Linked DNA regions of Homo sapiens. The protein of the gene in region 1 interacts with the protein of each later gene in a biochemical or structural test. Each region holds a gene or a part of one and is shown on either strand. Other genes may lie near its edges. The genes, in order: ACAT1 and PDHA1.

Region 1 (3,597 bases):
TAGTAACATGCTCTATTAAGTTCTGCAGTTGTGTTTGAGTATCGGTTTTTCAAAAGTGACTTATATTGGTTTTAGGCTTACCTATTTCTACTCCATGTACCACCATAAACAAAGTTTGTGCTTCAGGAATGAAAGCCATCATGATGGCCTCTCAAAGTCTTATGTGTGGACATCAGGTAAGAAACACCGTCCTTCCCATTTATTAATCAGAGTAATACCTAGGGCTAAAAGACACAAAAATCTAGGCATATTCATATTTTAGAAATGAGATTCTTTCTCATAAGTTAGTATGTTTTCTCACATGCTCAAGAGTGTCTGGATTTGCTAAGTCCATTTGAAGTATGGTCAAAATGATAGCGTAGGCTGGGTATCATGTCTGTAAGCACTTTGGAAGGTCGAGGCAGGAGGATCCCAGGAGTTTGAGACCAGCGTAGGCAACATAGCAAGCGAGACTCTGCTCTTTGAAAAAAAAAAAAGCCTAAGTGTCTTGTGTTACAAAGTTGTTTTTAGGCCCAGGCACAGTGGCTCACTCCTATAATCCCAGCACTTTGGGAGGCTGAGGCTGGGGGCAGATCACATGGTGAAACCCCGTCTCTACTAAAAATACAAAAATTAGCTGGGCGTGGTGGCAGGTGCCTGTAATTCCAGCTACTCGGGAAGCTGAGGCACAAGAGTCACTTGCATCTGGGAGGCAGAGATTGCAGTGAGCTGAGATTGTACCACTGCACTCCAACCTGGGAGATAGAGCAAGACTCTCAAAAAAAAAAAATTGTTTTTAGTCAAGGCATTTGGGTCTTTCTCTGAGGCTGGGTGACTAAAAATTCATAAATACTGTATTTGCCAGAATAAGACAGGTTTTCATTATAAAGGAGAACACGGTGCTTAACCCTGGGAATCAAATCATTGCTTGAGCCCAGGCTTGATGACTAATTTGTAGTCATTAAGTTAAGTTCTACAGGCTTTCTAATTAGCCTTGCTGATCTATATCTTGTCTTTACTTGAGATCAAGCAAGAGACAGGCTCCTTAGCAAAAATATGCTGTCATGTCAGGAGGTGAGACCTGGACACACAGAAGAATCAAGATTCTCTCAGATCTGAGCCCTTCATTTTTCAGATGAAGATTTTTTTCAGTGTGTCTGAGACAGCCACAGAGTTACAGGGCTGAGCATCTGCCATGTGACAGTCATTGGAAATAGAGTGGTGAACAAAACATTTAAAAAAATCTGTACATGTGCAGGTCTCTGTTGGAAAAATGCCTAAAAGAAATGCTGAGTCAGGATTTGAACATTTTGGTATTTGCAAATGCTTTCCATAAAAGTTGTACCAGTTAGACTTTCCAAAAATTGTGTGACTTGTCTGGATCTGCACCACCACTGGGTGGTACCAAACCCTTGTCAAACTGGTAGGTGAAAAACGGTCACCAGATTTAGTTTCAGAACTGTTTGTCATGGAAAGTTTTGTCTTAATTGAAGTATTGTGGTTCTCTAGCAAATGCCATTTGTACTATATTGAAATACTTTCATTTAATATTATTTTATTCATTTGTGGATATATACAGTGACTTATAGGCATTCTTGGAAGTGCTTTGTTTTGAATATTTATGACCTTAGAAAACAGTCAGTTTTACTTTATAATGAAGAATTGATACCTTATTTTCTGTCACTTATTATTGCCATCACCCCCAGTAAAAAGTACAAGTGAATAAAACTTAGATGAGAACTGATTAAGAATTTCTCTATTTCGGAATAGGCAAAATATTTATGTTTCTTTGGTATAGAGCTTGCTTGTCTGTATGCCTGATTAAAGACTGTAAGAAGATATTATTGGCTTTATGTTTACATTAATGTTTTATATTAAACTGTTTTTAACTAGCCCTTATAATGCAAGTGATTTTTTTTTGTTGACTTGTAAAGTAGTAACAAGTTGATTAATATTTATTAAACTTATATATGCCAGTTGCCAAGGATGTAAAAATATGACAGGGTGTCTGGCCTCAAAGGAGCATAGTCTAGTGGGAAGACTTGACATGTAAACATATAATAATATTAAAAGCATTGCATAGTAATTGGGGAACACAAAGGAGGAGAAACTGTTTCAAGAAAGGATAGAAATAAATGGTCAAGGCAGACATGAAGTAGTGTTCTGATTAGTTTTAAGAGAAATGTAGGTGTTTTACATGTTGGTGGATGGGGAAAGTGCAGAGGTATGTGTGTGAAATGTGCATGGTGTCTCTGGAGAGCTTTAACTAGTTCCATGTGACCTGAGGTATAGGTTAGGCTGTGAGACTGAAAAAGGGGAGAGAAGGGATACTGTAAAGGCTTTATATATTATGCTGAGTTATCTAAGGTGCGAAATGATCAGACTTACATTCTAGCCAAAATGAGTCAGATGAGTGTTGATGATGCTTTGGTGGAAAGGCTGCATGTCAGAAGATCAAGTGGAAAATTATCTCAGCTGTCCAGGAAGAGATGATGAGGATCTCAGTCAAGGAAGTATGATTATTTTCATGAACTGAGATTACTTCTAATCTTCTAGAGCACATTAAATTTTTAGCAGCATGAATGAAATGAAGGGTTAGAAGTTAAGAATTTCAGGCCAGTCATGGTGGCTCACACCTGTAATCCGAGCACTTTGGGAGGCTGAGGTGGGCGGATCGCTTGAGTCTGGGAGTTTGAGACCGGCCTGGGTGATATAGTGAAACCCCATCTCTACTAAAAATATTATACAAAAATTAGCTGGGTGTGATGGTGCATGCCTGTAGTCCCAGCTACTTGGGAGGCTGAGGTGGGAGGATCACTTGAGCCCAAAAGGCAGAGATTGCAGTGAGCTGAGATCGTGCCACTGCACTCCAGCCTGGGCAACAGCGAGACCTGTCTAAAAGAAAATTTAAGAATTTCAGAAGATGGTTTTACATGAAAGATTTCTGGTATTTTTTTTTTAAAGACAGAGTCTTGCTTTGTCACCCAGGCTGAAGTGCAGTGGTGCGATCTTGGCTCACTGCAAGCTCTGCCTCCCAGGTTCACGCCATTCTCTTGCCTCAGCCTCCCGAGTAGCTGGGACTACAGGCGTGTGCCACCAAACCCGGCTAATTTTTGTATTTTTAGTAGAGATGGGGTTTCACTGTTAGCCAGGATGGTCTCGATTTCCTGACCTCGTGATCAGCCCGCTTTGGCCTCCCAGAGTGCTGGGATTACAGGGGTGAGCCACCGTGCCCAGCCAGATTTCTGGTATTCTTATTAATGTCTGGTTGTGAACTTTTGAGACAGAGCCTTGCTGTCACCCAGGCTGGAGTGCAGTGGCACGATCTCAGCTCACTGCAATCTCCGCCTCTACTTTTTTTTTTTTTCTTTTGAGGAGTCTTGCTCTGCCCCCCAGGCTGGAGTGCAGTGGCACAATCTCAGCTCACAGCAACCTCTGCCTCCCAGGTTCAAGCAATCCTCCTGCCTTGGCCTCCCGAGTAGCTGGGATTAGAAGTGCCCACCACCACACCCAGCTAATTTTTGTATTTTTAGTAGAGACGGGGTTTCACCATGTTGGCCAGGCGGATCCAGAACTCCTGACCTCAAGTGATCCACCTGCCTCAGCCTTCTAAAGTGC
Region 2 (3,978 bases), on another chromosome or scaffold:
CCTAGGAGCAGTAGGCTCTACTATACAGCCTAGGTGTGCAGTGGGCTGTACCATCTAGGTTCGTGCATTACAGTATGGTGTTCACATGACAAAATCGCCTAGTGATGCAATTCTGAGAATATATCCCTGTTGTTAAGTGACGCGTGACTATTTTGGGGGCTTGGTTTGCTTTTAAAGACCTAGTGCTTCATATCCTACCGTTTGAGAGATGAGTAGATTTGGATGGTGATTTATAATGTTTCCTTTTAGGTGTCTGCTGTTTTATAAGTAAGCAGGAACCTCTAGCAGTGGAGCCATACCTTCCCCTTCCTATTTATATTTCAGTACATTAATTGCTTTATCTTGTCAACTTCATTTTGGGGTCCTTGTTCTCATCAGTTAGTGAATGATGAAGAATTAACAGCACAAAATTATATCCGGACTGTTTCTTTTCCTTTCTAATATATTAAGATTCTATTATGTGTTGTTTTTTTTTAAACCTAGGTTTTATTTTTCCTTTTGAAATGGAGTCTTGCTCAGCCGCCCAGGCTGGAGCAGTGGTGTAATCTCAGCTCACTGCAACCTCCACCCCCGGGTTCAAGCAATTCTCCTGCCTCAGCCTCCCGAGTAGCTGGGAATATAGTTACGTGCCACCATGCCCAACCATTTTTTGTATTTTTAGTAGAGACGGGGTTTCACCATCTTGTCCAGGATGGTCTCGATCTGTGGACCTCGTGATCTGCCCAAAGTGCTGGGATTACAGGCGTGAGCCACCACGCCCGGCCAGGTTTTATTTTTTAACTCTTGAATGCAGAAATGTTAGTGCTTACTGGTTAAAATAGAACATAGTATTTATATATTACTTTAGTGCTTTATTGAAAATATCGGAGGTGGGATAAACAGAGAGATAGGGTTGGAAGGAGAGTTTGTAGCAGCAGTGTAATTTCTGTGTCAGATTCTGGCCAGGAGTGAAAATGCAGGGCATTAATTAGTATCTCCCCTCATGGATTTCTGTGGTTCCTTTCTCGGTTGTCCTTAATGTTAGGTGCCCCTGGGCGCTGGGATTGCTCTAGCCTGTAAGTATAATGGAAAAGATGAGGTCTGCCTGACTTTATATGGCGATGGTGCTGCTAACCAGGTAATTATGTCTCTTAACTTCCCAAAAACAGTCTTATTTTCAAAGTCTTTAATATTTACAGTTGAATTTCTAAAGAAGTAGCATATTGCTTATTAGGTGAAATAGCAAGTCCTATGGCTAGCTCAAATTTGGTTGACTTATGGCCAGATTAGAGATTGACCTCTTAGCGTTGTTTCACAAGAGACTTACGGGGGCACATTCCTGTGAAGGAGCTCACCTTTGCTCTACATCAGTGCTTGGCAAAGGCCCTGTGGTAAAGGACCTCCCCACAACCTATTGCAAAACAATACAGACCCATTCTCTTGGATGTCCGGGCTGGCAGTGTCAAATTCGGATAATAGCGTCTGAGTCCTAACTCAGTTTCTATGCTTCTCTTGTTACCGAGTAATCCCCAGTCTGTGGCCAGCACTCTGTGAAGCCCTGTTCTAGAGGCTGATTCTTAGGTGCTGGTTCACTCTGGCTATCCAGTGGGCCTGATAGATTTCATATTGATCTTTTTTCCAGTGTGTTCCTTACTGCTAGCATGGCCCCAAAGAAACAAGTAGTAGTTGGTTTGTCACCTTCCTTAGTTGCAAGAGTATGATGCCTGCTACTTCTCCTCCACCACCCACCCCGCTTTCCCTCACCACCCAAAGCTCGGTTTTAGAAGAGGAGGCTTTCTGTGCTTTATGAAAGCTTTCTGTGCCAGGCAGAGCAGCAGCTGTTAGAGATGATGAAGCCTGGAGAAAGAAGCCAAATGAAACCCCTTTTCGTAACTACTTCCAGGGCCAGATATTCGAAGCTTACAACATGGCAGCTTTGTGGAAATTACCTTGTATTTTCATCTGTGAGAATAATCGCTATGGAATGGGAACGTCTGTTGAGAGAGCGGCAGCCAGCACTGATTACTACAAGAGAGGCGATTTCATTCCTGGGCTGAGAGTAAGGACACCTGTGGTGGGGCCGGGGCCAAGGCCAAGGCCAAGGGTATGTCCTTGTGCAGACCCTTGACGATCTTAGAAACATTGGAGAGTTTCATTCTCATACAGGAGCAGGTCATGTGAAAGTAAAATGGTTTGGGGCAGTTGGATTCATGCTTCGCCCCTCCCCTGTTTATTACCAGGTGGATGGAATGGATATCCTGTGCGTCCGAGAGGCAACAAGGTTTGCTGCTGCCTATTGTAGATCTGGGAAGGTAAGGCTCTAAAGCCCTCTGGGCTAGTGACATTTATCTCTGGAAGTTCAAAGACTGCCTCCCATGTGCCTGCTGAAGCTGTTAGTGGGTACCTGCTAATTGAGGTGCATGAGATGGAAGCAGAGTGAAGGGAGCAGGGCTCCTTTGGGTAGCTTGGTCTTGGTAGCTCACCTGCTGGGAAGCCTACGTTTCTCTCATTTGGGGGAAGTCCGTTCTGGTGCTTCCTCTGCTTTGGCCTGTCTTCATGACAACTGATTTGCCTTTTCCTTAGGTTAATTCTGTCCCTCCTCCCCACCCCCCATTAATCATGAGTCCCTTGAAGGAACAGATTGGGGATCCCCACAGTGTCCAGCATAGAATGTCATGTATACAATAGGCATTTAATATGTGTGTCTTATACAAATTAAACAGTATGGTAGAAGCTCGTAATCTTAGTCTTGCTCAGTCCTAAGGATCTTTCCCTTTTCAGTGTATGGCAGTGAGGGAGATGGTAAGAGGGAGACTGGCCTAAAGAGGTTTCACTTCCTTTGGCACTAGTATAGGCTTAGGAGGTTTGGGTGTTCTCCCTAAATCAGTGTTCTACAGCCCAGAAACAAGGTTTCTGAAGTTGGCACTTCAGCGCCATACCATGTACGTTTAGGCAGTGATGTGAATCAGATGTGGCCAGCAATGATGGAAATGTCACAAAGTGGAGAGACAGGGAAGTGAGGGTGGGAATGTAGTAACATTAAATAAGAGCTAATGAGTAGAATGAACTAGAGCAGGACCAAGACTACAGCTTGGGTACAATGGGCTGAGCAGTCTATGTCAGGACCCTAAGGCTGGGAGTGCCAGGCCCTGAGTGATGGGTATTGACGCCACCTCTCCCAATTCCTGAAAAGAATACATGGGGGCCAGCCCTGGCTGGAGACAAGGGGAGTTGTAGAATGTAGTTGTAGAATGTGTGACTTTCCCAAACAGATAACCTTCACAATTCTGAGTTAGGTGTTATTGTTTTGCCCATTTTGCAGACAAGGAAACTGAGCCATAGAGCAGTTAAAGGTACACAGCTACTCTGTCTTGGAGCCAGCTCCCCACTCGCCCATTTTAACTGCTGCACCAAACCAACCAAGGATCCTCAATGTTTCTCCACCCCAGTGTTCAGAGCCGTCTCCTGGAAGTGGGCTAGTGTAGAATGAGCGAGCCCAACTGTCCAGACTCCCAGCAGAGCCTTGGGGTTTGGGTAGCAGAGGTTGTTGGTGCCTGCCAACTTTGTTACACACTAGCAAGGTCTGTGAAGTAGGAGTGGCTGCCAGCCCCACAACACACCATGAGAAAGGAGCATGAGATGGAAATCTGTCTAGCCAATAGCAGGAGGCTCTAGAACATGCTCAGAGCCTTTTTCTTTTTTCACAGGGTCTCGCGCAGTGGCACACTCACAGCTCACTGCACCCTTGACCTTCCAGAATCAGGTGATCCTCCCAAGTAGCTGGGACTACAGGCGCACGCCACCATGCCTGGCTAATTTTTGTATTTTTTGATAGAGATGGGGTTTTGCCATGTTGTCCAGGCTAGTCTCGAACTCCTGGGCGCAAGTGCTCTGCCCACCTCAGCTTCCCAAAGTGCTGGGATTACAGGCATGAGCCACCATGCCTGGCCTTCAAAGCCTTTTTGATTCAAAACAAGCTGTTGGCAGATTGCCTTATTA

Evidence for each region.
Region 2: of the proteins of ACAT1 (region 1) and PDHA1, one has a biochemical effect on the other in vitro, tested with the Homo sapiens proteins (one study listed by BioGRID).

Annotation. Positions count from the first base shown.
Region 1 is NC_000011.10:108,135,067-108,138,663, forward strand, and holds part of ACAT1 (acetyl-CoA acetyltransferase, mitochondrial isoform b precursor), read left to right. Parts: intron 1-75; coding exon 76-176; intron 177-3,597. UniProt on the Homo sapiens protein: This is one of the enzymes that catalyzes the last step of the mitochondrial beta-oxidation pathway, an aerobic process breaking down fatty acids into acetyl-CoA.
Region 2 is NC_000023.11:19,353,467-19,357,444, forward strand, and holds part of PDHA1 (pyruvate dehydrogenase E1 component subunit alpha, somatic form, mitochondrial isoform 1 precursor), read left to right. Parts: intron 1-1,024; coding exon 1,025-1,117; intron 1,118-1,882; coding exon 1,883-2,038; intron 2,039-2,219; coding exon 2,220-2,291; intron 2,292-3,978. UniProt on the Homo sapiens protein: The pyruvate dehydrogenase complex catalyzes the overall conversion of pyruvate to acetyl-CoA and CO(2), and thereby links the glycolytic pathway to the tricarboxylic cycle.